7 linked regions of the Homo sapiens genome follow. The protein of the gene in region 1 purifies or fractionates together with the protein of each later gene. This does not show direct contact. Each region holds a gene or a part of one and is shown in the gene's direction. Other genes may lie near its edges.

Region 1 (3,246 bases):
TTTCATTTACCTTGAGTTAGGAAACTGGGCTTTATTACCTGGATAGAACACTAATTAGTTCTCAACCTCTTTCTTGAAAAGTGATGGACAAGGAAGGTATAGACCCTATATAATCTGATGATCTATATATGTTGGATAGCTCTCTATCCTATGATGATCTATATCTGTTTTATAGCTCCATATCCTCTGATACGCTATACCTATTGCTTATCTGTGTATCCTCTGATGAGCTATATCTGTTGCATATCCTCTTTCCTTTGATGATCTTTATCTGCTGTATATCTCTCTATCCTCTGATAACCTATATCTGTTGTATATCCCTCTATTCTCTGATGAGCTACACCTGTTGTATATCTATCTCTCTCTATCCTCTGATAACCTATATCTGTTGTATATCCCTCTATTCTCTGATGAGCTATACCTGTTGTATATCTCTCTATATCTGTCTATCCTCTGATAATCTATATCTATTGTATCTCTCTCTATATCTGTCTATCCTCTGATAACCTGTATCTGTTGTATATCTCTCTATATCTGTCTATCCTCTGATAACTTATATCTGTTATATCTCTCTATATATCTGTCTATCCTCTGATATTATAAATCTGTTGTATATCTATTGTCTGATGGGCTATTTTGTATCTATCTTCTGATAACCTGTATCTGTTGAATATCTCGGTATCCTCTGAGGAAGTATACCTGTTATATATTTCTCTCCCTCAGTAGATTAGAAAGCTGATGCAGAGAAATAAAAATAGTAGAAACAATTATTTAGAATTACATGAATGAAGAGCTTCTTTTTCTCCCCCTAATCACCATGTTAACATTTTCTTTTAGAAGAAGCATGTTTTGAGCTATAAATCACATCCAGTGGAAGATGGTGGAACTGATAATCCTGCTTTCAACCACATTGAATTGAACTCAGATCAGAGTGGCAAGAGCAATGGGACTCGTTTGTGAAGCTGCTCTGATACTAGATATCCTTAAATGATGTTTCAATTTTATATGTTTTCTAAGATAATTGGATCAGGTTTTCTTTGTGTGTGTGTGTGTGTTGTATCATGAGTGTTTGGGGGATAAGTTTTTGTTAAAACAAAGTCTGGACTATCTTCATTTACTACATCATTAATTGATGTTACTCTGGAGTTTAGAATTCTGGCATTGACATTTCCCTCTCTTTCCTTTATTTCGATGAAGCTATAATTGTGAAAATTGTAACTACATAGATGCTGAAAGGCTAATACACACATATGCACATGTATTTGATTGTCAAAGGTATATTCTTAAATTTGGGTATTATTGAAAATATTTTCCATGCCTTGGTGCTAGCATATAAGTTTGGAAGTTTGCCAACATCACAATTCATCTTGAAAAGAGCTTTTTTCCCTCCTACCACATACACCATTCTTAGGGAGCAATGAGGTAACAGGTCTGTGTTGTCTAGATCTTTGCTTTTTATCCCCCTATCAGTCCAGGGCATATACTAACCTGCAAACTGATTCTGAATCAGGAAGGTGGTAATCAATAAGTATTCTGGCTGGGAAAGACCGTGGGCCCAATGATCAAAGTCTTCTTGGTGCTGTTCATTAATTCTTGTGCCTTTTGGCTTGTTTTCTAGAGTTTCTGGGCTTTGGCTGCTGATACTGCCTTTCTTAGACTGTAATTTTTATCTGCATGCCCAGTTTCTGACCTATCAACTTGGGTTTTATTGTGCACTCTAACTGAGCTTGTCTTCATAATTTTCTGTTTATTGCCCTGGGCTTGGATATGTCTCAAGACACTCATGTGAATCATGCCACCCCAAATCCTGGCTTATCAAGTCCCAGACTATAAATTATGAACTCCCATTAGCTTGGTACTAACATATACTTGATGTAGGTATTTATGGACTTGATGATCCAAGAATATTATATTCTTCAAAATGGTTAAGCTCCATGGAGTTAGATGACTACACTTAATGCTATTAAGTTGAACTTTTGAATGTCAACTAATTTGCAATCAATTAAAGATACATATGCCTAGAAATTTTGAAATTTCGGTATATTTATCCAGTTAAAGGGCTAAATTATATAAGCAAACACTACTTTTTTTAAAACGTCTGGACTCAAAAAATGCTTTGTTCCATGTTTTAAAATTTTTAAGTAGCAGTCTCAAAGTTGCTTAGCTGTTTATTTTGCTATGTTCCTAGCTAAGAGTTTGGTTATAGGAGTTCATCAATAACTTATTTTTTGTACAGTTCCCACATTAGATACTGTTTAAAAGTTCTTTTTTAAACTCAATTTTTTTTAGAAACATAAGAGAAATATTTAGATACATACAAATGTTTTTATGATTAAATAATTTTATGCTTATTTTCTGATACGTGTTATTTAGGTAATCATGCCCTGTACATTTAGAGGTTGCTAACTGACAATGTTAAGAAATTTAAAAAAAAAAAAAAGCCTGGGCATGATGGCTCATGCTTGTAATCTGAACATTTGGGAGGCTGAGGCAGGAAGATCGCTTGAGGTCCAGAGTTTAAGTCCAGCCTGGAAACATAGTTAGACCTCATCTCTACAAAAATAAAAAATAAAAATAAAAAAAACTTAGCTAGGCATGTTGCCACATACTTGTAGTCCCAGTTATTAGGGAAGCTGAGGTGGGAGGATAGCTTAAGCCCAGGATTTCAAGGCTGCATTGAGCTATGATTACACCACTGCACTCCAGCCTGGGTAACAGAGTGAAATCTTGTCTCTGGGAAAAAAAAAAAAAAAAAAAAAAAAGAGAGAGAGAGAGGGAGATTTATATAACATTTAAATTAACTGCATAAACCTGGGCAATGTTCAAAACTCCATCTCTACAAAAAAACACAAGAATTAGCCAGGCACGGTGGTGTGTGTCTGTAGTCTCAGCTACTTAGGAGGCTGAGGTGGGAAGATTGCTAGAGCCAGGAGGTCGAGGCTGCACTGAGCTGTGATTGCGCTACTGTACTCCACCCTGGGTGATGAAGCCCTAACTCAATAAATAAATAAATAAATAAATAATACAAATAAATTAACTATATATTCATGTATTTCTTATGTGGATATATGTTATTTTTTTTTCCTGCTTTTCTTTTTTTTTATTTTTTTATTATACTTTAAGTTTTAGGGTACATGCGCACATTGTGCAGGTTAGTTACATATGTATACATGTGACATGCTGGTGCGCTGCACCCACTAACTCGTCATCTAGCATTAGGTATATCTCCCAATGCTATCCCTACCC
Region 2 (3,500 bases), on another chromosome or scaffold:
TCAAAACTAAATATTAGTTTATACTCACTTCCTTTCACGTATTTTAAAAGCAGTTTGCAAGCAATATTGTAATAAGTGCTATGAGCTTAGTTGAATTCTGCCCTAACTTAATCTCATCTTGTTCCTAAGGACATCCAGTCACTAGAGTAACTCAGGGAATAATTTTGCATTTGATAGGCATCTTTTGTTCATTTTTTTAAATCATCCAGACTGGAACTTCTAAATCAGTGGTTCTCAACTGGGGGCCTTTTGTCCATAGGGGGCATTTGACAATGTCTGGACATTTTTTTATTGCTGAAACTAAGGAGGTGGTACTGACATCTAATAGGAAAAGGCCAGGAATGCTGGTAAACATCGTATAATGCCATAGTCCCCTACAGCGAAGTATTATCTGGCACAAAATTTCAATAGTGCCAAAGTTGAGAAACAATATTCAAAATATGTAAGGGTTACAGTCCTTTGAGTTGTCAAAAGTAATTACTCTGATAATAGATATTCCAATAGATAGGTTAAAATTGTTTATTTGCTTGAAACCTGTATTTTAAACAGAATTTCAAACTTTTCTCTGTGTCTCTTCTAGCAGCTCCTCGTATGCAACTTGCTGTATTTTGCTTTCTCACACATTCCTTTTCTGCCTTTCTTTCCTACCACCCATCTCCTTTCTGTCTCTGTTGAGTCTCGTTCTCTCATGTGTTTTTTCCCTCCCCACGCATCTCAACCACTTTCTCTTCTTCTGCATACATCTTCCCCTACCTCTTCCACTTCAGTGCAGAAGCTGAGCATTATGAAACAATGAAAAGGGGGTTGAAGTATGACAGATCTAATTTTGAATCCCGGTTTTACTCTTTATTAGCCCCCGTGATCCTGATTACTTAATCCGTCAGAGATTCAATTTCCTCATTTGTAATGGGTATGATGCTACCCACCTCTTAAAGTTTTTATGAGGATTCAGTCTCATTTTGTATGTAAAATGCCTAACACATGGAGGCACTCAATAAATATTTGCTCCTTATTTCTCCCTCACCTTTTCTATTTTTCTTCTTTTTCTCTGGTTTTCCTCCCCTTATTTCCCTCAACTAACACATCATAGAACTGTGTTTTTAGTACATGTAATTCTCAAATTTATAGAATATTTATTGAACAAAGTGTTAAGATTGTGAAACAATGTATCTAATGTTTAGAATAGACAATCTCTAAAGAAAAAATTAAACCTGTCAACCTAAATTATGTTGTTTTTTATGTAGATCTCTAGTTGGTTTCTTTTCCCCCTTGTTGCTCACTAATCCTTGAGAGGAAAAATACCCACCTCCTCTGTACAAACTATTCTCAGTTTCCTATTCAAAAGAAGTGATAAGGCAAGATTAAAAGGAAAAACTCAAAGTACCATGACATCAGTCTTGCTGTAACAGAAATATGTAGAAATTCTGTGTCTCTATTCATGTGTTCTTTAAGACTTAGCAACACTGTCTTCATTTTCTGTCTTTTCTGGAGTCATAATCTTATCTTCCAGTAACAGCCACCTATCTCCGAAAACCTTGTTCCTACTAGTTATGTTTTATTTCATTGTGTTTATGTGTGTTTGAGAGAATTAATAAGACATTTGAAATGTAGCTTCTTTTGAGCAGATAAACCGAGTTTCTAACCAACCTGATGCAGAAGATACTTTCTATCTTCTGATCTTTTTCCCCATACCCAGTGTTTCCCCCGGCACCGCCCCCAGCCATTTAACTTCATTGGCAGCTGAGTCTTATCTTGGCATAGGAAGAGGAAGTGATTGGCTTTATTTCTTGCTGTTTTCTTAGGGCAACAACTGCAGCTTATCAGAGTTCTAATCAAAAGGAAAGCATGGTACAAATGTTTTTAACTTTATGGAAAATAAAGGATAAAATTATCATTAATACTTAATATCTAAACATAATGTTAAGAAAGTTAAATTCCCATTGTGGTTTTTACAGTATTTATTTTCATGTAACTTTTTAAATATCTGTGTTTGAGAATTTCTTTTATTTCCTCTTCCAATTAATCCAAAATAATTTAATTTTTGTTTTGTATCCTCTTAATTAAATTTTACTTGAATGTCTGCAGATGGCCTACAGAGGTAGGGAATTTAAGTTTGATGTTGCATGATTGCAAATTCCATCAGTCTGACTGAATTGAGGATTTCTTATTCCATGAGTTTTAGAGGTAATAACAGCAGAAGCGAAATTTTCACTGCCACAAATTGAGAATTGAGAAGGAAAGTCATTTTTCAGGAGAGATATTTGATTTTGACTACTTTTTTCCCCTAAGTTTGATACTTTATTTTTTAAAATTTATTTCTTATTTTTTTATTTTTGAGACAGAGTCCTTTGTTGCCCAAGCAGGAGTGCAATGGTAGGATCTCAGCTCACTGCAACCTCCACTTCCCAGGTTCAAGCAATTCTTGTGCCTCAGGCTACCGAGTTCCTGGGACTACAGGTGCATACTACCATGCCTGGCTAATTTTTGTATTTTTAGTAGAGATGGAGTTTTGCCGTGTTGCCCAGGCTGGTTATGAACTTCTGGCCTCAAGCAATTTCCCTGCCTTGGCCTTCCGAAGTGCTGGGATTACAGGCATGAGCCACCGTGCCCAGCCTGGCTACTTTTAATGGATAAGTTTACCCATCTTGTAGTAGCATCTAGCATATTGTCCTGCATATGCAAGGTACTAAGTAATGTCACCAGAGATTTCATATTTTTTTTTAAAAAAGTAGATTCTTGAAAAAGTATAAAATGTAGAAATGTCTTAACCTGCAGTTTGAAATCAGAAAGAGGCTTGAGCAGGGTGTGGTGGGTCATGCCTGTAATCCCAGCACTTTGGGAGGCTGAGGTGGGCGGGTCACCTGAGGCCAGGAGTTCGAGACCAGCCTGGCCAACATGGCGAAACCCCGCCTCTCCAAAAAGATACAAAAATCAGCCGGGTATGGTGGGGAATACCTGTAATCCCAGCTACTCAGGAGGCTGAGGTAGAAGAATCGCTTGAACCCAGGAGGCAGAGGTTGCAGTGAGCCAAGATCGCAAACTGCACTCCAGCCTGGGCGACAGAGCAAAACTCCGTCTGCGCCCACCACCCTCCCCCGCCACAAAAAAAGAGGCTTGAGTTAGGCATATTCTTGAGTTCGTGGCCCACAGTTATATATCATTAGTTCATGAAAAGCCCTTCTCTTATTTAATTATTTTTCCATTGCATAACCATTTCTTTCTCTACAATAGGCAGCTGTTCCAATACGTCTGTTAGATATTACTGAAATTGAGTGTATCTTTTTGACTACCTGGTGGTTTCATTTGTGTGTCTGCAATTATGACTTATAATTTTAAAAATATTGAAGCCCGGTAGTTAAAATGAAAAATGAATGCAAATTTTGGTATTTTTCTGTTTATAATCATTTCAAAGACTAAGTTCTAGTTGATATTCTCATTGTTTTTATCCATCCCCTCAAAAAAATCTTTTTTCTTTTATTGGGTCTATGTAGTTTAGTGGG
Region 3 (3,500 bases), on another chromosome or scaffold:
GTGCAGGGTTGATATGACAGCTGCTTCTAGCCTGGCCTTGAGCCTGGAGTTTGTAGGGGCCCTGGCAAATGGCATGACCCTGCCCACAGGCAGTGCAGGGGCAGGCGTGTGTTCCCTGGGCCCAAGAGTCTTGTCCCTCTAGCCAGCCCTGGGTGGGAGGTGAGTTTGGGGCTTTGCCCACACTGCAGGTCCCCTGAGAGTTGTCTCCTGTACTCTGACTGTGCATTTATTTCTGGCTCTGGTGCCAGCAAACTCCTGGGGCTGCCTGCTGCCAGGGATGCAGCCCTGGCTTCTAGCCCCATCTCAGACACTGAGTGGCCTTGGGCCAGGGTCTCTCCTGGCCCACCTGCAAAATGGCATCATAACGGCCCCAGCCACAGGATGAAGTAAGAAGTGCAAGGGAAGTTCTTGCACAGGGCGTGGTCTATGGCGTGCTCAATAACTGGGCAACTCCTGTGGCTGTTCCTAAGGCTGCACCACGGTGTTGGCCCAGGCTGGGGAATTGAGCCCACTGCAGACAGAGCCCCCTCCTGCCAACCTCCCTTTCACACCTGGCTGACCAGGTAGACCTGCCTGAGAAATCAGATACGAGCCTCCAGCAATGGTTTGGAGTCTAAGATTGCGGACAACAAGGGATGCAGTGGAGCAAAAGAACCCAGGCCTCTGAAGAAGGAGAGCTGACCCCGCTGCTGATATGCTCCTTAGGCAAGTCTTGACCCTTCTTTATGACTCAGTGTCCTCATCTGTAAAAGGGGAAGAATAATTCCTGCCTTAGTCATTGTAATGATCTTCACCCCAGCAACCACCTATTGATGTTTTTCTAATGCTTGGGGAGTGTGAATGCAGACAAGCTAGACCCATCACAGCCGTGAGGGCCCATGGCCTGGCAGGGGCACTACAGTTATCATAGGGAAGCCCAGGAGCTGTGGGGCCTCCAGGAGGGCACCTAACCCAGCCTGGGGTGGAAGTGGGGGGTCATGGAAGGCTCCCTAGAGGAGCTGATGCCTGAGCTGGGTTGTTAGTGTGATTTGGAGACGGCCAGACTATGAAGGGTAGAAAAATAAGGGAAGATATTGGGTCAGTCACTCCACTTCTCTAAGCGTCAGTTTCTTCATTTATAAAATGAGGATAATAAATACCTGTTCTGCCTAATGTATAAGCTTGTTGTAAGGCTCTAAATTGGATAAAAGTAAGGAGGCGCTTTATGAACTACAAAATGCCAGGCACCTACCTATTCATTATTCATTGTGATTTCTGGAGCCCCTAGGGGTTAGGGAAATATCAGGCCAGCATCTGGGGCTGGGAGAACTTTCAGTTGGTTTTGAAAGGGCTACAATCAAATCGGACAGAGACAGACAGCCGCCATTAACCACACACCCCTTGATTTAAGTGCTCTGGAGTATTTCTGTGCCTGGGTGTGGCTTTGTTTGGTGGGGTCCCCGAAGGCAGCCATGGCCCCATCACAGATCACAGCCCCACTCTGAGGATGAGGAGGAACAACGTCAGACCCAAAGCACTACGTCCCTGTAGAGGCCTGGGACCTGCCAGGGATAGGGATAGAGGACGGGAGCACTGTGGGGCCGCCATGAAGAAACCAGTCTGTTTAGAGAGAGGGCCACCATGTCACGGTAAGAGAAAGAGTAGTATGTGTGGAATGAGACTGTTTGGGTTTGGATATGAGAAAAGAATCTTTCCCTAGCATGCAGACATAGCAAAATATTCAGACAGACATCAAGCTAATTATCACTAGGTGGTAGAATTTTGTTTTCTTTGGTCTTTTCTACATTTAAAATGTTTTGGCTGGGCATGGTGGCTCCTCCTGGTAATCCCAGCACTTTGGGAAGCCAGGAGTTTGAGACCAGCCTGGGCAACAAAGTAAGACATTGCCTCTATTAAAAAAAAAAATAAAATAAAATAATTTTATACTTGATAGATAATTTATTTCTGTAAAGATTTTGGTGATATGTGTGCAGTCATTCCTAAATATTCAGCTTCCAGGACACCCAAGGATATCAAAATCTGTGGATATTCAAATCCCTGATATAAAATAGTATAGTGTTTACATGTAACCTACACACACCCTCCTGTATACTTTAAGTCATCTATAGATCACTTACAATGCCTAACACAATGTAAATGCTATGTAACTAGTTATTATACTGTATATACATATTTTTAAGACAGAGTCTTGCTGTGTCACCCAGGCTGGAGTGTAGTGGCACAATCTCAGCTCACTGCAAACTCCGCCTCCCGGGTTCAAGTGATTCTTGTGCCTCAGCCTCCCAAGTAGCTGGGATCACAGGCATGCACTACCACACCCAGCTAATTTTTTACATTTTTAGTAGAGATGGGGTTTCGCTATGTTGGCCAGGCTGGTCTCGAACTCTTGATCTCAAGTAATCTGCCCGCCTCAGCCTCCCAAAATACTGGGATTACAGGTGCAAGCCACCATGCCTGGCCCATTGTACTGTATTTTTAAATTTGTATTTTTTAATTGTTGTATTGTTATTTTTCCTTAATTTTTTCGAATATTTTCCATCTGAGGTTGGTTGAATCTACAGATGCAGGACCCACAGATACAGAGGGCCAACTATGTATGCAATACAAGTTATAATGATATTTAGATAATAAAATACTCAGGCCGGTCTGACATCAGCAGGCTGCAGGGATGAAGTCAGCACTCACAGCATAAGGACTTTGGTAAGGCCTGGATGACATCCCCAGTGCTGGCCTTCGGAACAGTTGGGAGCAGAGTCCAAGGATGGCTTGATGGAGTCACACTGGAGGAGATGTCTGTGGGGGTTTCTGAAGGTGGGAACTAGGACTCTTTTCTTGGGACAAAGACTTGGGGTTTTGGGTGGCTGCAAGCACAGTAGCATTGTGACCAAACTGTCCAACTGTGGAACCTACCACATCAGTAGCAACAGAGGGTTGGAGGCAGAGGTGAGGGTCCTGCTGAAGTTTGGGCCGCTTTCTGAGCAAGACTAGGACAGCTGAGACAGATCCAGAGGGGCGCCAGGCCGGGGAAGGGCCTGAGCCTTCAAATTCCGTGAAGCTCTGGAGATCCAGGGTGAATGCTAGGCCTCAATAGACCCTTGTCCCTTAACGATTTGTGTTCTTGGTCTTTGATCCCATCTCACAGGCGTTTCAGCCTCTTTGCAAGGGAAGTAAAGAATCTAAGCTACTGCGGTATTTCATTCAAGGCAGGGCTTATCTGTTGTGAGATGTACCCTTATTTTAGAATCCATTAAGAAAGAAAAAGCAACAGAAACTGTAAGTTGCATCCCAGTTTCAGAGATGTTAAAATGTAAAAAGCTGTCTTGGAATCATTTGACATGTGGCGGGTCCCCAATTAGACTCTTAGTGTGCATTCACTCATGGAATCTTCACCATCGCATTGTAGCTAGATAGTCTTGTCCTCTTTTTACAGATAAGGAGGCAGGAGCCCAGAGAGGTTGAGTAAATTTGCAAGGTCACGCAGCCAGCAAGAGGCAAAGCTG
Region 4 (3,500 bases), on another chromosome or scaffold:
CCCAACTAGCTGTCACTCCCCATCTCCCCAGATCCCCTCCCCTCATCCTGGAAAGCAGGCCTGGGACAGTCAGAAGCTCAGTGATTGCAGGCGCCTGATGGCATTTGTGAGGAGGGCTCAGGCCTTTCCCCTCAGGGTGGTCTCTGGCGTAGGGGGCTGAAGGTGGGCAGGGGCCTTGGCAAGGCCTGCCACCATGTCCCAATGCCTGCTGCCGCTTGTTGAGCACTGCAGACATGGCCCAGAGTCTGCCTGGGGAGCTAGGGAGTGAACCCAGTGCCAGGTGGACTGTGTGGCTCCGCTGCAGTACCAGGTACTTAGGACAGCTCTAGGAGGGACTGCACGGTGGGCAAGTGTGCTCCCTGCAGAGGGGACTCTAACCCTGTGACCTCAGCCTCCCTGGACCTCAGTTCCTTCACTGGTTAGATTGGGGTGAGAATGGAACCTACCTCCCAGGATTGCTGTGGAGATGGCAGTTGGTGGGTGTCATTGATGTAGAGCAGCATCTGGCACATGGTGGGCGCTGTTTTCATATAGCTTTGCTGTCGATATTGCCGATGTTATTGTTACTGCTTGTGTTCGTTTGTGTGTTAGCACCTTCATCCTCTGAGGTTGTTTTGACCAGCCCCAAGGGATGCTGTTGAGCTTGGCCAGAGTACCCAAGTTTGACCTCTGCACAGACCTTACTACCCACCCAGCTAAGCTGCACAGAGGAACAAACGTGCCACAGTGATCAGAATTGGGACACTGTGAATGGGGCATGGGGCACGTATTCCCGGCAAAGAGAACAGCATGAGCAGGGCCCTGGAGATAGCTAGAGGTAGTGCCTGGCAGCTGCAGGTGTGACTGGCAGTGATGGAGCAGGAGCACAGGGTCTGGGAAGGACAGCAGGGCCCAGCTGGGGGCCATTCAACCTGGAGCTCAAGACAAGCCAGCAGCAAGGGAGCAAGGTCAAGGTGAGGCCCTGCCTCCACTCCCTCTGGCCCCCAGCCAGGGAGTTGGGTGGCCCCCCTGGTCCTTCTTTACACAGACTCCCTGGGTAATACAGGCTCCTGGGCTGCACTCCTCAAGATCTGGCTCTGTTGTCTGGGATGGGACCTGGGAGTCTGCTTTTTTTTTTTTTTTTTAGACCAAGTTTCGCTCTTGTTGCCCAGGCTGGAGCGCAATGGCACAATCTCGGCTCACTGCAACCTCCACCTCCCAGGTTCAAGCGATTCTTCTGCCTCAGCCTCCCGAGCCGCTGGGATTACAGGCACCTGCCACCACGCCTGGCTAGTTTTTGTTATTTTTAGAAGAGATGGGGTTTCAACATGTTGGCCAGGCTGGTCTCGAACTCCTGACCTCAGGTGATCCACCTGCCTCAGCCTCCCAAAGTGCTGGGATTACAGGCATGAGCCACCACTCCCGGCGGAATCTGCTTTTTTAAACACCTCCCCAAGGCATTGTCCCGCAGGGTCTCAGCCACATTTTGAGAATGGCAGGGTGGACCAGGCATCATGGGTTCCCTCCACCCTCTTGCCCTTCTGAGTCCTGGCTACATGATCTTAGATCAATACTTTATTTTTCTGAGCCTCAATGTCCTCATCTGTAGAATGGGAACAGAAACAGTATCTGCTGTGACTAATACAGGAGAGAATGCAGCAAATCTCAGTACCAGCTAAAGAGAAATATGGGCCAGGGCTGTACCAGGCCAGGGAAAAGCTTGAGTCAGTATGGGCGTGTGTGGGTGTGGGTGTGTGAGATACGCCGCAGGTCTCCCAGATTCATGAGTCAGTACGCGTGTGTGTTACACTGTAGGTCTCCTAGATTCTAGCCTTCTAGCCTCCATCTGCTCAGGGCAGACCTGAGCGCAGTGAGCAGAGGGCGGGGCATTGGGCCATGTCCAGAAAGCTGAAGTGTGACGCTGTGCTCCTGCTTAGGCCCCTGGTTGCTAAGGCTCAGTGTGGGGAGAAGAAGGGCTGCTACCCTGTTGGATGGAGTATGCAGGGCATCTTCCTGCCAGCTCTGCCCAGGGCACCATATTGGCATGCACCAGCTGCACAGGTTGGCGAGCCTATGTATGTGAGAACAGGGTGGCTCCTTCATGGCTGGCCAAGTCTCCAGCCAAGACCCCCCAGGACAGTGGGGAGCCATGGTGGGCAGCAGAGCTTGTGGGAGGCAAAGGCCTGCAGAGAGTCTGCCATGGGGCACAGGTGCTCTAGGTTACCTTGACCACTGTGGCCCTGCCAGCTGCATTCCTGGTAGCTCAACTGCCCACCAGGCCCAGCTGCCTCCATCTCACGGTGCAGCTGGTGGGAAGGTTAGTTCTGCCTCCTGGGCTACAGGTGTCTGGGCATTTGTTCTGTGCCTGTGGAGCCCCTCTGGGCCTGCCCCCTGACCACCTGTGCCCTCTGTTCCAGGTGCTGGGGAGTCAGGGAAGAGCACCATCGTCAAGCAGATGAAGTAAGTGCTGTATTCCAGAGGCAGTGCTCAAACTCCAGCTTCCCCTCTTCACCCTCTGGGCCTGCACTGCCCCCGACTACAGGCCCAGCCAGTCTTAGCCAGGCCCAGAATCTTCTGAGAAGCAGAAGGACCCTCAGGTCCCAGTGGGTCAGGGGCAGTTTTCCCTTCTCTGAAGCAGGTCCCAGTAGCCCCAGGCAGCCGTGGGAACTCCCAGTGCCCAGGGGACACTAACCTTCCTGGTCCCTGGCTATCAGGATCATCCACGAGGATGGCTACTCCGAGGAGGAATGCCGGCAGTACCGGGCGGTTGTCTACAGCAACACCATCCAGTCCATCATGGCCATTGTCAAAGCCATGGGCAACCTGCAGATCGACTTTGCCGACCCCTCCAGAGCGGTATGTGCCCTCCGCCCCACCCTCTCCCACCTCCCAAAAGGTTTCGGGGTGGCTGGTTGTGGTGGCTCATGCCTATAAATCCCAGCACTTTGGGACGCCGAGGCGGGTGGATCACCTGAGGTCAGGACCAGCCTGGCCAACTTGGTGAAACCGCGTCTCTACTAAAAATACAAAAATTAGCCGAGCATGGTGGCACGTGCCTGTAATCCCAGCTACTTGGGAGGCTGAAGCAGGAGAATTGCTTGAACCCGGGAGGCAGAGGATGCAGTGAGCCAAGATCGCCCCATTGCACTCTAGCCTTGGTGACAGAGCTAGACTCCGTCACAGAAAAAAGTAAACAACAACAACAAAAAGGTTTTAGGGCAAGTCTCATCCTAGGGAATCCAAGAATACCCTAGCCTGGGCCCCATTCCAGAGGTCTCCCTGCCTCTGGCAGAGTGGGGGTACATTCCTTCAACTGCCTGACCACCCGCCACTGTGCCCAGGACGACGCCAGGCAGCTATTTGCACTGTCCTGCACCGCCGAGGAGCAAGGCGTGCTCCCTGATGACCTGTCCGGCGTCATCCGGAGGCTCTGGGCTGACCATGGTGTGCAGGCCTGCTTTGGCCGCTCAAGGGAATACCAGCTCAACGACTCAGCTGCCTAGTGAGTGCTCTGAGGGGCT
Region 5 (3,500 bases), on another chromosome or scaffold:
GCTTAATAAGCAGTGCTGCATCTTAACTTCGATCTCTCTTTCTAGATGCTCCTGTGGCCTGCTCCATTGCAAATAGTAAGACCAGCAATACCCTAGAGAAGGATTTAGATCTGTTGGCCTCTGTTCCATCCCCTTCTTCTTCCGGTTCCAGAAAGGTGAGTCTTGTGGGCTCCTCAGGATTAAAGAACATTCTGAAATGGGTGATTTTGATATCTTAATCATGGAACCACGTCATGCTTCCTTGGTGGAGTTGGACTTTGGTTTTCTTGATTCTTCATTCTTCCCTTAACATTGTGTCATTTCTGTCACAGTCTAAGATTGCTGTTCATGCCTTTTTTTCTCCTGCTCAAAAAGGGTGGGCCATTTGAGTTGCTTCTCTGGAAAGTGTGTGATACTGTGAAGGCTGATACTTGAGGCTAGCTCCTCGGCCTGAGTTACTGCCAGAAAATTGTAGGTAGGAAAGACTTGAAACCTTTAATGGCTACCATTCGTGAAACGCCTGCTATGTCTCAGGCACAGTGTGAGGTGGTTTTTGTATATCATTTTGTATATTTCATTAATAATTTCACTCCTTCACCACAAACCTGCAAAGTGGAAATTTTACAGATGTGGAGACATTAGTTTGTAAAAGTTATGTGACTAGCCTGTGGTTATACTAGTAAATGGCTACACTGGGGTCTAAACTCAGTTCCCTCTGCTGCATCATTTGTGGGTTGTTTTGTTTGTTTGTTCCTACCAAATCACATGTTTTGGTGAAAGGAAAGAATTGTAACAGAGCTTAATTATCAGGTGTGTTCAGATAGTTGAATGGTAAAAATGTTAGGAAGCTATTAACTTGAGCCATGAATTCTTATTGCAGATGTTAGGAGCAGCAGAGAGGGAAGGGAGACCCTTAAAGAGACCCCCATGAGAACCATTTCAATTCTCCCCCCGCCCTCTTTGCCCTAAGGTTGTAGGTTCCATGCCAACTGCAGGGAGTGCCGGCTCTGTTCCTGAAAATCTGAACCTGTTTCCGGAGCCAGGGAGCAAATCAGAAGAAATAGGCAAGAAACAGCTCTCTAAAGACTCCATTCTTTCACTGTATGGATCCCAGACGCCTCAAATGCCTACTCAAGGTAGATTTCATGGGTGTCATGGCCATGTGCCAGGTAGAGACATGAGGGCTTCCATGCAGGAATTATTTATTGTGACAGAGGACAGTTGCTTTGGGGGCCAGGATGTCATACACCAAACAAACCTGAACATGACCAACGTATCAGCAGATGGAAATTAATGTAACTCAGAGTCATACTTCTGTGGAGTCTGGGGTCACAATTCGGTGAAGTCTAGCTCAAGGTCTGGATCTGGACCCTAAAGGGAAAATGGCTCGGTCAGCAGCCCATTGGTAAGCTATAGCAGGCCTCGTAGGGACTCTAACTACTTTGCTGTGTAAAGAGCATTGTGAGTAGAGTAATCCTGAGAAATTCCAGCTGGAAAGGGTTAGCCAGGGAGAGTTCGGGCTGACTTTATGTTTTTCCCTCTTTAACCAACCTGTATGTGTGTTTTCTTGGCAGCAATGTTCATGGCTCCCGCTCAGATGGCATATCCCACAGCCTACCCCAGCTTCCCCGGGGTTACACCTCCTAACAGCATAATGGGGAGCATGATGCCTCCACCAGTAGGCATGGTTGCTCAGCCAGGAGCTTCTGGGATGGTTGCCCCCATGGCCATGCCTGCAGGCTATATGGGTGGCATGCAGGCATCAATGATGGGTGTGCCGAATGGAATGATGACCACCCAGCAGGCTGGCTACATGGCAGGCATGGCAGCTATGCCCCAGACTGTGTATGGGGTCCAGCCAGCTCAGCAGCTGCAATGGAACCTTACTCAGGTAAGCTACCCCATTTTACTTGCAGCAAGAGTTTTGAGCCTTCCTCAAGTTTTTCTCGGTTTGTACCTCTCCACTATCCTTTGAATCCTTTCCATGTAGATGAGATAATGTAAGAGACATTGTTAGGTTTGCTTTTTTTTTTTTTTTTTTTCCTAGAAGGTCTGTCTAAAGTCAGACTTTCTGAGGAGTTCTGGGCTCCTGTAGAATAAGCCCAACTGCCTAAATCTGAATCTCTCCACACATTCTCAAAAGCAAAAACAAACACACAAAGAAACCCTGTACAAACAATGAATGCAGATATTCTCACAACAATCTCATTTGGTAGACAGAATACTGCAAGGTTCAAATGGCATGGCAATGGGCATATAAACACCAAATCCAGCGGAGCCAGCATCACAGAGGAGACTGTAAAAAGAGAAGATGGAGCAGGGGCCTAGCAATAATACCACAGATAAAGTAACCCCCCAGAAGGAGAAGGACCTACCCTCATCAAAGACATACTGAGAACAGGTCTGAGATGTGGTAGATTAGAACTCTGTTTACTTGGAGGATCAAAAATAAGAGACTTCAGATATATAGGAGTATAGGTAGTAACCTTGGGAAAGCATTGCTTCTCGGGGAGATGGGCATGGCCTAAAAGGAGGAGGTACCCTTTAGAGGACTGGTGGTGAAGGAAAGAAAGACACGAGAAATGGGAATGAGAATCACAAAATCAAATATACACCTTCTTCCCTCTTCCAAAATAACCACTTCACTAATAAAAGATGGTGCTCTTAATCTAAGAAATTTAGTAAGCCTCCCCAAACCTTCACACCTATTATTGCTGATTGAGAAAAAATAAGACCTTACAAAAATGAACCAAACATGGAAGCTGACATTTGTACACAACTACTACAGGAAGAAAATAGAAAATGAAAATCAAAACATTTCACGTAATGAATATTCTCCCTCAAAAAACAGTCATGAAGCAGAAGAAAATTGTTACACAATCTACCAATCTGAATTAAATGTCCTTAAACATTTGCAGATAAGACAAAACACCTTAAATCAGAAATTCAAAAACTTAAAGCCAAAATGGATAAAAAACTGCATGCTGTGAAATGAAAGTTTACTAAACTCAGAAAAGAAATTGAAGAAAAAGCCAAAATTTTCGTATAAAGACTCAATTACAAGTTAGCTAAAGAACAATAGATTGAGCTGAAAATATATTCGGCATTGAGGAAAGGCATGAAACAGCTAAGAGAATGAAAACTAAATATAGAAAGTAGTAAAAAGAATTAGATGGAAATTAATATGGAAGTTAGGCAAAGAAAACTTACATATATTTGGAGATGCCCAAAGAAATAAAGACAAAATAAATAAAATATGGGACAGTATTAATGTGTTTAACACCAGAAAACATTCTAGAAATAAAAGACTTGGATATAATATGGAAAGAGCCCACTGTGTGTCTGGGAAAATTGACCCAGAACAGTCAACTTTAAAACATATCCCAGCAAATCTACAGACTTTAAAGAACATTCAAAATGTTTAGGGGTCCAACCTTTTCCATACCTCCTACCCACAAAAATCTGTTACTTAGAACAAACAAAAAATACCCAGGTTGACATCAGACTTCCTAGCAGCAAAA
Region 6 (3,500 bases), on another chromosome or scaffold:
GAGCAGCCCCTACCCGAGCCAGTCCTCCCCGAGCAAAGTCCTGCTGCCCAGGATAGCTGCCTGGAAGCCAGAAAGAGCCAGCCAGATGAAAGTTGTCTGTCTGCTTTGCACAACTCCAGTGACCTGGAATTAAGAGCCACGCCGGAGCCAGCACAGACTGGTGTTCCCCAGCAGGTGCATCCCACGGAAGACGAGGCCAGCAGTCCCTGGAGTGTGCTGAATGCAGAACTTAGCAGCGGCGATGACTTCGAGACACAGGACGATCGCCCCTGCACCCTCGCTTCCACGGGGACCAACACGAACGAACTCCTTGCCTACACCAATTCTGCGCTGGACAAGTCCCTGTCCAGCCACTCCGAGGGCCCGAAGTTGAAGGAGCCGGACATCGAAGGGAAGTACCTGGGGAAACTCGGGGTGTCAGGGATGCTCGACCTCTCAGAGGACGGGATGGATGCAGACGAGGAGGACGAAAACAGCGACGACTCGGACGAGGACCTGCGGGCCTTCAACCTGCATAGCCTCAGCTCCGAGTCGGAGGACGAGACCGAGCACCCCGTGCCCATCATCCTCAGCAACGAGGACGGAAGGCACCTGCGGAGTCTGTTGAAGCCCACAGCGGCCAATGCCCCCGACCCACTGCCCGAGGACTGGAAGAAGGAAAAGAAGGCAGTCACGTTTTTCGATGATGTCACAGTCTACCTGTTTGACCAGGTATCTGTTCCCTCTAAATCATTTTCTATACACATCCATATAAGGATTCCAAAATGTGCTAGGAAATTGAGTGTGGTCTGTTTTCTAGTTGCCATTTTGAGGCAGCAGATTGTGATTACTCACAAAAAGTAATTTGGGGTTGGTTAGAGTTCTAAGAATATGCAGAAATGTCATTTGCTCAGGGAGTTCGTATTAAATTAAGAGAAAGAGACCCGAATGCTCTTCCTGGGTCTTCTAATGGAGTCTTCCTGAATTAGTCACCCTTTACACACCAAATTTTTACTGTTTTACTTTTTTATTTTTCTTTTGAGACAGCCTTGCTCTGTGGCCCAGGCTGGAATGCAGTGGTACAGTTGCAGCTCACTGCAGCCTTGAACTCCTGGGCTCAAGTGATCCTCCCACCTTCCATAATAGCTGGGCCCACAGGTTCATGCCACCATGGCTGGCTAAGGTTTTGGTGTTTTTTTTGTTTTGTTTTGTTTTTAATTTTTGTAGACACACGGTCTTGCTATGTTGCCTAGGCTGCTCTCAAACTCCTGGGCTCAAGCCATCCTCCCACCTCAGCCTCTCAAAGTTTTGGGATTACAGGCATGAGCCACTGCGCTTGGCCTCCAATTTTTAGAGCCTGACAATTGGCAGTAGGACCCACCACTTGGGTACAAGCCTGGAACCATGGCTGGCGTGCAGCCCTGGAGACAGCTCAGGAGAGGGGCCAACCAGAAGCCCTGCGGTGGGTGTCTGGAGGGTGTGACACACAGCAGGAGCGTCTGTGGTCCTTCTGCTCTGTCCCCTGACCTGTCCTCTTTCCCTGCTTTGGAGCAGGCAGCTTAGTGTGCACTGCTGAGTGGGCATGGATTTAGGCTCCTTTAAAAATGTAACAGCGGATAATTCAAGCATGCTTTAAAAAAAAAAAAAAAGTTCTTTTCATACTAGTCTTTGTAGCCCTTGAATTTGCTGCTTGCATCAGCTGGATTGTTGGGAGAGCTCAGTGGTGGGACATGAAAATGGGGTCCCCTCACCTTCTAGAAGGCGCAGGAGTCCTCGCCGTCTCCTTCACATTGCTTGCCCTCCCTTTTGCTCCATTCTGGGAACCCAGACCTTGGTCTCAGCCCCTGCGTGGCACCATCCCTCATGGGTCCGTGGCTATGGCGGGTCCAAGCACTGTTCCACCTCCTCCCCCAGGAGCTGCGTCTGTTGAACGTCACTTTATGCCTTGTTCCTCTGTGTTCTGTTCACTTTGGTTTTTATGATGTTTCTTTAAAAATCGTTAAATCACCCGCATTTGAGCTATAGCATATATGGCGGGGAAGTGGATGTTTAAAAAATGAAAAGTAAGGCCAGGCGCGGTGGCTTATGCCTGTAATCCCAGCACTTTGGGAGGCCAAGGTGGGCGGATCACCTGACGTCGGGAATTCAAGACCAGCCTGGGCAACATGGCGAAACCCCATCTCTACTAAAAATATAAAAATTAGCCAGTCACGGTAGGCAAGACTGCAGGCCCAGCTACTTGGGAGGCTGAGGCATGAGAATTGCTTGAACCTGGGAGGCAGAGGTTGCAGTGAGCCAAGATTGCACCACTGCACTCCAGCCTGGGTGACAGAGTGAGACCTGTCTCAGAAAAAAAAAAAAAAAAGCAGCCTCCTGAGCTCAGCCTGACCTCTTGAACCTGATTCTGCGAGGGGCCAGGAGGCCGTCTTTCTCTTTTCATTCCCCAGGTGGTTCCTAGGCAGATCTCGAACTCAGGAGCCTCTGAGCTCAGGGAGCCTGAGAAAACACGCTGCCGTTTTCTAGTAAGAGTGGAAGGGAGAAGGGATCACCTGGCCCCTCGGGTTTGTGTTTTGTTTTCAATGCATCCACATAGCCCTTTCTCCACCGTCTCTGTGAACTTGGATTATCGCTGCATTTCTCCATGGATGGGGTAATGTATAGGTGGGACGGAACTGTCAACTGTGCTCGGTGAGCAGTGCGGTTAGGAGCTAGGGAGCACGCTGTCCCCACTTCCTGAAAGCCTGGGGGTAGCTGGAGTAGTGAGAGGGACGCAGTCCCAGTGGAAGCAGCCTGTGGAGAAAACTCCCTGGGGCCGCAGAGTATGGGCCCCTTGCACAAGTCTTTGTGGAGGATGTTATGTTTTTCTGACTTTAGAAGACAGAATTGCAAAAGATGAAGATCTGTGACAAGGGCACTCTAGTTATGGGATGGAAGGTACAGAGATCAAATACCAGACATGCTTAATGGACGCGAGGCTTTGACAAGGAAGTTAGTGTCAAGGAGAAAGTCGGAAGGTGGGTCAGGGCCAGAAGAAAATGAGGAAGATCTTTCTGATGATCTGAAATTCGTTTGCTTATGCGTCTCATGCAGCATGCCTTGAAGCGACAGCCACCAAGCGTTCAGGCCGAGGACTGAGGGTTTCCTCCCACTCCTGCTTTCTTTTTTAATGAGCTGGTTTTGAAGTTGTGTAGTTTTTAAGCAGTTGAAGTATCTTGGCTCCAAACTTTTAACTGAGTGTTCATGGGATTGGGCAGCAATTGTTTCTTGGTTATATTACTATTTGTCAGTTCAGCAAATACTTAACCAGCACTTACCGTGTAAAGTAGTAAAGGCTGGTGAACAGTCTGTGGGTGCCAGCACCTTTATTATACATTGAGTCTTGTTTTGCTTCCCCATGTGGGGGTGGTTGTCACCATCTTCATGGAGAGGACCCTGAGGCTCAGAGTAGGTAAACTTTGCACAGGGTCTGGCCCCAGTGAGTAGCAGTGCTAGGGCTTGACCCAAGTCTCCTGGACCGAGCA
Region 7 (3,500 bases), on another chromosome or scaffold:
TGAAAAGAAAGAATGTCATTGAGTTTGACTGACTGGAATATCTCTGTAGATTTATCTATATTAAATGAATTATTCAATGTGTGTAGTGCTGTCATATTTTAAACTATTTAGAAACCTAAGAAATAAGTACTGTTTTGTTGCAGATATATATATTGGCACATCTAAAGGCAAGAATAGTAGAATTAAAAGTAACATAGGCAACAGTTCTAAGGGCCTATTTAAGCTCACTGGAGTACTCCATTTGAAAACCTACAACTGTGAAAGTCCTTTGCATTTGAACATACATTTTTATTTATATGGTAAAACCTCAAATCTAAACTTTAAAAATATCTAGCTTAATCTGAAGGGAAAACTTTTTCATTAGTACTACTTTATATTTTTCATTTCTAATCTGTACTCAAGATTAAATATTAAAAAATAATGTGTATTCATTTATTGTACATCTCAGTGGCTTACTGCCTAATAAAATTTTCTGTATCTTGTAATTACCTGTTGTTTTTCTAAAGCATTTTTTGGAGCCCAGTTGAATTCCTTTATCCATGTGATTATGTACTCATACTATGGGTTAACTGCATTTGGCCCATGGATTCAGAAATATCTTTGGTGGAAACGATACCTGACTATGTTGCAACTGGTGAGTTAAATGCTTCCAAAGTTTCTTCTGGTAAAATACTGAAATTGTTTAAATTTGATTAATTTTAAAGTGCAATGTCATTTTAGACAATTTTCTATTATGAAATTAACTTTATCCTCCAGCTATATCGCAGTTATGCCCACTTGACTCTAGATGACCTATTCATAGACTTATTGGTCCCAGCAAATCTTTGTTTTTATAATATGCTTAAAAGACTAGACATAGCCCTTACTCCTCTAAGGAAAACATTCTCTAAAGATGTTTGTGGAAAGGATGATTAAAGATCTAAGCACGCTACAAAGTACGTAGTATGAATAGAAAAATAATATGTATTTTTTCCCTACAGGTGATTTTCTTAACTTAAAATTTTATTACCTTTCTTCATCTTGTCCTTGCTTAAAAATTTTGTTTTTTATTTCATTTTTCAGTCTTTAACATATCTCATATATTTAGACTAAACAGCTGAAAAGAAAGCACATAGCCAAGGAAGGGGTGGGGCAAAGGAAGGGAATAAGGGCAAGAGAACTCCTTGTAATTCTCTAAAACACTGTCCTTAAGAGAGCAGAGACAGATATTTTCAAATGGTGGTCTTTAGTCCAGACAGTTTTCAGCACATCCCGCTAGTAAGACTGTTTGTGGCAATCTGAGTGTGTGCATTAGTGTACCTTTCAGATGCTAGGCACTAGCCTGTAATCAAACTGGAAATTCAAAGCCAACCTGGTAACTATTTTTCAAGCTTTAGAATTTATTATAATTTGCTTTAATCATAGCATGTGCACAATTTTATCAGTGGAATCACATTTGGAAATAATATTCATCTTTGCTTTAAGTTGCTAAACAGCTGGCTAACCAAACAGGAAGCACAACTTTTGGGAAATGCTGGGTGCGAAGGATTCATTTGTAACCGGAGTGGTATAGGAAGCTTCCTCCAGTTTTTGTGTAAAAGCTGTTAACACAGTTTGTGTAATTCATTTCTCTCAGTAAGTAGTAAATGGACCTAAGAAAATGAAGAGGTGATCAAAATCATGTGAATTAGTCCTATCTGGTTTGTTGGAGCCTACACCTGGCTCTCCTTGAGTGATGCCATACCCAATCACACCCTTATACACACCCTTTTTGGTGATGCAGCTTCTAAAAACCATTGTGAAACCACAAGTTCTTCAAATTAAAATATTTGCCAAGGAAAATTATAAAAGTTTAATATAGTATAAATTTTTAGCTTACATGGCATACATTATTTTAATATTTAAAATAAGTAATACTGATTATTTTAATCAATAATTAATATTTTAAGAACAATGCTATCCTTAAAAGAGAAACCACAATTGTCCATTTCAAACAGGATGTTGAGTTTGTATTTCCAAGCCAGAAGTTCCCACAACAGTTAGTCATATAAGTTAATTGTATAAAAAGTTAACCCTTGTTAACATTATGTCTTGACCCATTCTTTTATTGATACATCAGAATCTATTTCATTTTAATCATCTCACTTTGGGCTTTTTTCCTTTTAAAAATTCTTAAAGTTGAAAGTGATTCTTTTTGTATTTATTCTGAAATATCTACTAAATTTTATCCAAATATTATTTTTTTCTTTTTTTGGGACGGAGTTTTGCTCTTGTTGCCCAAGTTGGAGTGCAATGGTGCAGTCTGGGCTCACTGTAACTTCCGCCTCCTGGGTTCAAGCTATTCTTCTGCTTCAGCCTCCTGAGTAGCTGGGATTACAGTCATGGACCACCACACCTGGCTAATTTTTTGTATTTTTAGTAGAAATGGGGTTTTACCATGTTGGCCAGGCTGGTCTTGAACTCCTGACCTCAGTTGATCCACCCGCCTCGGCCTCCCAGAGTGCTGGGATTGCAGGCATGAGCCATCGCACCTGGCCATCAAAATATTAGTTTTTAAAGGATAGTGTTCGTTCAAATAAAAATTTACCTGCCTACTATCTGTAAGAAATAAATGAGCCATTTTGATAAGCTCATTTTAAGTATGTGTATCTGCTTGCTGACAATTTGATAGAAAGAAACCAATGTAAAATGTGGGAGGAAAACAAAATTGAAGAGCCTACAATACTATTACTTTACTCTCCTAGGCCATTGATTCCCTTTCATCAGATAACATTATTCAACACATATTCATTGATCCTGATGCTGTGCTGAGGACTCAAGAATCACCGATGGGCAAGACAAAGCCCTGCCTTCTAGAGTCATTTTCTAGTGGAAAGATAGGCAATAAAGAAATAACAAATACAGAAGACAATTTCAAATAGGTATAATTCTCCTTAAAAAAAATGCAGAAAGCTCTTTGGTTAATGGGATTGGGAGGGCCAATTGAAATTGAAGTCTTGTCAGAGAGTCCTTACTGAGGAGATGGCATTTGAGTTGTGAATGAGGAGCTAGCCATGGGAGCCAGAAAACAATAAATTTTGCACAGTGTGGCAAAATTTGGGCCTGTGATAGCTATGTAGAAGATGCCGATGTTGTTAAAAGTTGTTTACTATTCAGATTAAATGTTTTGTGCTGTCATTTCTGTTTTTCAGATTCAATTCCATGTGACCATTGGGCACACGGCACTGTCTCTTTACACTGACTGCCCCTTCCCCAAATGGATGCACTGGGCTCTAATTGCCTATGCAATCAGCTTCATATTTCTCTTTCTTAACTTCTACATTCGGACATACAAAGAGCCTAAGAAACCAAAAGCTGGAAAAACAGCCATGAATGGTATTTCAGCAAATGGTGTGAGCAAATCAGAAAAACAACTCATGATAGAAAATGGAAAAAAGCAGAAAAATGGAAAAGCAAAAGGAGATTAAATTGAACTGGGCCTTAACTGTTGTTGACAGTGAGGAAAAACTCCCATATCATAT

Evidence for each region.
Region 2: the proteins of SLC5A8 (region 1) and FAM241A purify together in Homo sapiens (affinity purification with mass spectrometry; one large-scale study listed by BioGRID and IntAct). This does not show direct contact.
Region 3: the proteins of SLC5A8 (region 1) and CORO2A purify together in Homo sapiens (affinity purification with mass spectrometry; 2 studies listed by BioGRID and IntAct, with this or other methods). This does not show direct contact.
Region 4: the proteins of SLC5A8 (region 1) and GNAI2 purify together in Homo sapiens (affinity purification with mass spectrometry; one large-scale study listed by BioGRID and IntAct). This does not show direct contact.
Region 5: the proteins of SLC5A8 (region 1) and SMAP2 purify together in Homo sapiens (affinity purification with mass spectrometry; one large-scale study listed by BioGRID and IntAct). This does not show direct contact.
Region 6: the proteins of SLC5A8 (region 1) and LMTK2 purify together in Homo sapiens (affinity purification with mass spectrometry; one large-scale study listed by BioGRID and IntAct). This does not show direct contact.
Region 7: the proteins of SLC5A8 (region 1) and ELOVL4 purify together in Homo sapiens (affinity purification with mass spectrometry; one large-scale study listed by BioGRID and IntAct). This does not show direct contact.

What each region holds. Positions count from the first base shown.
Region 1 is NC_000012.12:101,154,993-101,158,238, reverse strand, and holds the end of SLC5A8 (sodium-coupled monocarboxylate transporter 1), read left to right. Parts: intron 1-837; coding exon 838-960; 3' UTR 961-2,746; downstream 2,747-3,246. UniProt on the Homo sapiens protein: Acts as an electrogenic sodium (Na(+)) and chloride (Cl-)-dependent sodium-coupled solute transporter, including transport of monocarboxylates (short-chain fatty acids including L-lactate, D-lactate, pyruvate, acetate, propionate, valerate and butyrate), mocarboxylate drugs (nicotinate, benzoate, salicylate and 5-aminosalicylate) and ketone bodies (beta-D-hydroxybutyrate, acetoacetate and alpha-ketoisocaproate), with a Na(+):substrate stoichiometry of between 4:1 and 2:1.
Region 2 is NC_000004.12:112,151,954-112,155,453, forward strand, and holds part of FAM241A (uncharacterized protein FAM241A), read left to right. Parts: intron 1-3,500.
Region 3 is NC_000009.12:98,182,638-98,186,137, reverse strand, and holds part of CORO2A (coronin-2A), read left to right. Parts: intron 1-448; exon of another isoform or gene 449-705; intron 706-3,500.
Region 4 is NC_000003.12:50,249,704-50,253,203, forward strand, and holds part of GNAI2 (guanine nucleotide-binding protein G(i) subunit alpha-2), read left to right. Parts: intron 1-1,916; exon of another isoform or gene 1,917-1,970; coding exon of another isoform or gene 1,971-2,040; intron 2,041-2,396; coding exon 2,397-2,439; intron 2,440-2,693; coding exon 2,694-2,835; intron 2,836-3,320; coding exon 3,321-3,481; intron 3,482-3,500. UniProt on the Homo sapiens protein: Guanine nucleotide-binding proteins (G proteins) are involved as modulators or transducers in various transmembrane signaling systems.
Region 5 is NC_000001.11:40,415,227-40,418,726, forward strand, and holds part of SMAP2 (stromal membrane-associated protein 2), read left to right. Parts: intron 1-45; coding exon 46-155; intron 156-949; coding exon 950-1,115; intron 1,116-1,553; coding exon 1,554-1,870; intron 1,871-3,500.
Region 6 is NC_000007.14:98,193,862-98,197,361, forward strand, and holds part of LMTK2 (serine/threonine-protein kinase LMTK2 precursor), read left to right. Parts: coding exon 1-711; intron 712-3,500. UniProt on the Homo sapiens protein: Phosphorylates PPP1C, phosphorylase b and CFTR.
Region 7 is NC_000006.12:79,916,554-79,920,053, reverse strand, and holds part of ELOVL4 (very long chain fatty acid elongase 4), read left to right. Parts: intron 1-506; coding exon 507-634; intron 635-3,170; coding exon 3,171-3,446; 3' UTR 3,447-3,500. UniProt on the Homo sapiens protein: Catalyzes the first and rate-limiting reaction of the four reactions that constitute the long-chain fatty acids elongation cycle.